Linked DNA regions of Homo sapiens: region 2 is linked to region 1. Evidence: fine-mapped expression QTL. A gene starts in region 1. The other region holds a variant in brackets. All regions are shown on one strand. Distances are from middle to middle.

What was found. PIP is the estimated chance that this variant, and not a neighbour inherited with it, causes the effect.
Region 2: its variant is fine-mapped to the expression of LDHA in whole blood (TOPMed, PIP above 0.99).

What each region holds. Positions count from the first base shown.
Region 1 is chr11:18,393,368-18,396,387 of GRCh38, reverse strand. It overlaps LDHA (lactate dehydrogenase A), which reads right to left and starts at 1,825. Exons shown (of 8, transcript NM_005566.4): 1 at 1,752-1,825. RefSeq lists enhancers at 1-465, 1,730-1,819, 1,200-1,865, 2,130-2,219, 1,866-2,530 and a silencer at 920-969.
Region 2 is chr11:18,423,565-18,426,064 of GRCh38, reverse strand. The region is part of intron 3 of LDHC (lactate dehydrogenase C); the gene reads right to left. Among named protein-coding and RNA genes, the nearest start is that of LDHC, 12 kb to the right of the region's middle. The variant G/A (reference allele first, on the strand shown) is at 1,224.

The sequences.
Region 1 (3,020 bases):
AGGAGCCTGCGGTGATCCGCGCGCATGCGCGCTTTGTGGCTCTCCTTCCCGCTCGGAAAGGTGGGCGGAAATCAGACTAATTGCTGGGTCCTCCGAACGCCCGGCTTTTACGCCCCGCCCAAGTCCGGAAGATGGGCGGGCCCAGGAACTTGTGCGCGTGCGCATGCGCATTACAGCGCGCAGGGCGAAGCCGATTAGTCTAGCGGCCTCCGGCCGTTGGGAAGCGGGCATCGGGCCAGAAGGCAGAAGGCTGAGAAGCCCCGCCCGTAAGCAGAGGCAATCTGGAGCTATGCAGCTCAGTGGGTGAGAGGGAGGGAGCTGGGATTCAGACTTCAGACCTAATGAATGCCCCGAAGCAGACGCCAGCAACGTGAAGCCTAGCTGGCAGCCTCCCAGGTCTGGCGCGCAGCCAGCGCCAGACTTTAAATCGCAATACTAGAAACCAGGGCCTGTTAACCAACCGGGAGGGAGGCGCACGGTGTGGCTTCGGCCGTGATCCTTGTTGCAAAGGCCTGTCAGGCCCAGTATGAAGAAATAGTTTCAGTACAGGGAGTGTAGAAATAGCTGCAGAAGGCCTGAGGCCTGCAGCCCTAGAGTTAATAGCTACTTGGTGGAACCCTCGAATTCTTTCCACCTTGTTAATCCAACCCTGCACTGCATTCGCTGGAGGAAATATCACAGGCTGCATCCCCAAAGTATCACGTCTAGTTTTGACACCACTCCAAAGGGCAAAAATCCGAGAGGACCTCTAGGCAGGCAGTCAGCCCAGAGTCACCAAGCTGGAGCCGGGTCTCTCCTTACAAATCACTGCTATTTCTAGACAGCCTTGTAAGGTTTCTAGCCTGGCAGGGGGAAGGGAGTTCCTGCGGACACCTGCTAGCTTCACTGAACGGCCCCGGGATCCAATGCTACCTTTAATGTAGGGGCGGAGGTGGGAGGGCATGGGATGAGGGAAGGGTGCGTCTAGAGGCGAGAGACATGCAAAAACGAGTTCTACACCTCACCTCTGCCTCCTACTCACTGGGAACTTAGAGATCCCTGACTGTCTCCTAGCTTTCGGTCTCCCTATTTGTTAAAAGGAGGAGTTGGTACCGGCGGATCCTACTCAACTGACCGTCTGAGGTGCGGAAGGGCTGGGATGCTGCCTGCTTCATCTTTGCATGCGCCGTGCCTAGCGCAGCCCGAGATACACCAGTAGCTTCTTAATAAATGCGCAAAGGGCTCCCTATAATCTGCAGGCAGCAGCTGCCCTCACGGAGCCCACCTCTCGAGCGTCCCAAGAGAAAAATGCAAGCCGCGTGGTACTCAGCCGCTTTCCGTCTTTCAAGAACCCGCCCCGGACAAGCTGAGGCTTTTTTGGCTCTATGGGCTCCGAGAACTGGACCTCGAGTTTTGCACCGCCCGCCGATTTCGAGCCCAGAGGTATCCCCCACCCTTAAGGCCTATCATATCCTTGTTCCGCATCCACCCGGGCTTTCGACCCCTGCTTGGGTGCGGCCACCTCCTCGGTTCCCCAGCGTGGCCAGAAGCCATGGTTCCCGCTTAGAGCAAAAGCAGAGCGCGGCGAGCTCCGAACACATGCGTTGTGTGGGCCGCCGCCCAGACGTCTCTGGGCTGTGCTTCTGGAAAGCGGCTCCTACACCTCCCGGGAGCAGGAATCCCTTCGCGAGCAGCGGAGGCCAGCAGAACCAGAGGCAGTTGGCTCTACCCGCCCATCCCTCTGGCGCCGTGCGCGCAGGGCCCTACCGTACCGGGAATGCACGTCGGGCGGTCGTCGGGGGCGCGTGGCAATGAGATCCGGAATCGGCGGCAGCGGCTGCAGCACTCTGAGCTGGGCGCGGGAGGGGCCTTAAGTGGAACAGCTATGCTGACGTCAGCGGGGGGGGCCGGCGGACGTGCGGGAACCCACGTGTGAGTCGGGCTGGGGGTGGATGCCGAGCCAGGCGGGGCACTGGAGAGGCCCGGGTGGCGCGCGCAGCCAGACAACCGACCGGCAGACTGCTCCACGTGCGCTGGGAGTCTAAGTAAGGTGCTGCCCTCCAACCACAGAAGCCGGGGTCGGAGCCATGAGCCTGAGTCAGGACGACCTTCAGTTTCCTCATCCATGAAACCTGGGGAGGTTACTCTCAGGAAGGCTTGGATCTGTTTCTTCTTCATCCCTGTTTCTCAGTGTCCAGAACAGCTTCTGGCACGTAATAGGCACTCCACAAATATTTGTTGAACGAAAGGAAGAAAATGCCTAGCAGTCAGTCAGTCTGTTCTTACCTAAGTCGAGTGACCTCCAAAACTCGACGCTGCTTTTCCCTCTGCTGCTAAGCCTACCAGCTCCCACTCACAGTGAAGCCTTGGCCTCTCAGGCCTTGCAGGGTGACTCAGTTCAAATGTACATTTTATTCTGCACTTTCTACTGCCCACCCCACTGGCATCTCATCTCGAGTCTCAACCATACCCAAGAACTGTCAGTGGCTTGTTTTTTTGGTTTTGGTTTTTTGTTTGTTTATTTGTTTTTTGGTATTTTTCGAGACAGGGTCTCACTCTGTCACCCAGGCTGGAGGGCAGTGGCGTGATCATGGCTTCCTGCAGCCTCGACCTTCTGGCTCAAGCGATCCTCCCACCTCGGCTCCCCGAAGTGACTGGGACTACAAGCGCGCCCACTTGCCCTGCGATTTTTTTTTTAATTATTAATTTTTTTTTTTTTGAAACGGAGTCGCTCTGTCGCCCAGGCTGGAGTGCAGTGGGCTGATCTCGGCTCACTGCAACCTCCGCCTCCCGGGTTCAAGCGAATCTCCTGCCTCAGCCTCCTGAGAAGATGGGATTACAGCCAGGCGCCACCACGCCCGGCTAATTTTTGTAATTTTTAGTAGAGACGGGGTTTCACCATGTTGGTCAGGCTGATCTCAAACTCCTGGCCTCAAGTGATCTGGCCGCCTCGGCCTCACAAAGAGCTGGGATTACAGGCGTGAGCCACCGTGCCCAGCTCAATTTTTTGTTTTCTTATCATACTTACCTCTGGGCCTGTA
Region 2 (2,500 bases), 30 kb before region 1:
CCATCTCTAAACTAAAAAGTAAAAAAAAAAAAAAATTGTGGCTAATCAACGATGTTCCATCATTGCTCTTCCCCATTAGACCTCACAATATGTATTTTCTTTTTTCTTTTTTCTTTTTTTTTCTGAGACAGAGTCTCGCTCTGTTGCCCAGGCTGGAGTGCAGTGGCGCGATCTCGGCTCACTGCAAGCTCCGCCTCCTGGGTTCATGCCATTCTCCTGCCTCAGCCCTCCTGAGTAGCTGGGACTACAGGCGCCTGCCAACACGCCTGGCTAATTTTTTTTTATTTTTAGTAGAGAAGGGGTTTCACCGCGTTAGCCAGGATGGTCTTGATCTCCTGACCTTGTGATCCACCCACCTCAGCCTCCCAAAGTACTGGGATTACAGGCGTGAGCCACCACGCCTGGCACAAAATGTATTTTTAAAATGTTCTATTGTGAAATATTTCATATACAATAACATATAAGAAATATACACTCAATTTATAAAACATTAAACAACTCTGTTAAAACCACACAAAAGGCCAAGCACAGTGGCTCACACCTGTAATCCCAGCTACTGGGGAGGCTGAGGCACGACAATCACTTGAACCTGGGAGGCAGAGATTGCAGTGAGCTGAGATCGTGCCACTGCACTCCAGCCTGGGTTAACAGGGCAAGACCTAGTCTCTAAAATATAATAATTTTTTAATGAAAAAAATTAAAAATATTAACTCTGCCAAAACTGCACAATAAACATCTAGTTCACATTTGTCCTCTGGAGGCTGAGGTGGGAGGACTGCTTGAACCCAGGAATTCAAGAGTTTGAGGTTGTGGTGAGCTATGATCACACCCCTGAACTCTAGCCTGGGCAACAAAGCAAGACCCTTTTTCAAAACAAAAAAAAAAATCCCCAAATTTATAGAACATTGTCAACACCTTGGAAGCCCCTGCATGCCTCTAACAGATTATGTCTATCAACCACTCTTGTGGCTGGCAAAAAATCACATTACTTTTAAAAAAGCTTTACTACCTATGCATGTTTAAATTACATATTAATTGTTTTTTTATTTGTTTTGTTTTGTTTTGAGATGGCTCTATCACCCAGGCTGGAGTACAGTGGCACGATCTCAGCTGACTGCAACTTCCGCCTCCCAGGTTCAAGCGATTCTCCTGCCTCAGCCTCCCGAGTAGCTGGAATTACAGGCACGTGCCACCACACCCAGCTAATTTTTGTATTTTTAGTA[G/A]AGACAGGGTTTCGCCATGGTGGCCAGGCTGGTCTGGAACTCCTGACCTCAAGTGATCCGCCCACCTCGGCCTCCCAAAGTGCTAGGATTACAGGCGTCAGCCACCATGCCCAGCATTACATAGTACATTTTATCTGTTTTTGAATCATAAGGCATGTATTCCCTTAACTAAATATTATGTATCTGATATTTATCCATGTTAATGTGTGTTCCTGTAGTTTCTTCATTTTCACTGCTGTGCAATATTACACTGCATAATTTTACAATTTAGTACTGGGATTCATTGACTTGTTTACAGTTTGGGGCTACTACAATACGTTCTTGTACATGTATCCTAGTGCGCATGTGCAAAAGTTTTCTTGGGACTATATTTAGAAGTGTAATTTCCAGGTTGTGGGATATGTTCATGTTCAACTTCACCAGGTAATGACAAACTCGTGGGGTTTTTTTGTTTTTTTTTGAGACAGAGTTTCATTCCATGGCCCAGGCTGGAGTGCAGTGGCGCGATCTAGGCTCACTGCAACCTCCACCTCCTGGGTTCAAGCGATTCCCCTGCCTCAGACTCCTGAGTAGCTGGGATTACAGGCGCGCACCACCATGCCCGGCTAATTTTTGTATTTTTAGTAGAGACAGGGTTTCACCATGTTGGTCAGGCTGGTCTCAAACTCCTGACCTCGTGATCCGCCCACCTCAGCCTCCCAAAGTGCTGGATTACAGGCGTGAGCCACCGCACCCGGCCAAACTTGTTTTTTTAACTGGTTTTACTACACTCCTATATGCTGTGTGTGAGAGCACTTATTGTTCCACATCCTCACAAACACTTACTATCACACTTCTACCAATCTAGTGGGTGTGTAATGGTATATTGATATGGTTTTTATTTTCCTGTGCTTGGTTATTGAGTTTTCTCCCCCTATTTATAAGCCACTTGAGTGTCTTCTTTTGTAAATTATTGAAGGCTTTTCTCATTTTTCTATTGAGCTGTGCATTTTTTTTAGGTATTATATTAATACAAGTATTTTTATTCTGAACACTATTCCTTTGTTAGATGTTAACACTGCAAATATCTTCTCTCAGTTTATGGCTTGTCTCTTTGCTCTTTTATATTATATTTTTGTGAACACTCTTAACTTTGTATTCTTTATTGATTATGCTTTTTGTGTCTTTGTGTTTAAATCAGTCCCTACCTTCAGGTCATAAGGATATTCTACGTTATCTTCTAAAGGAAATTTTGAAGTTTTGCTTTTCACATTTTAGTCTTCAACCAACCTGGCTTT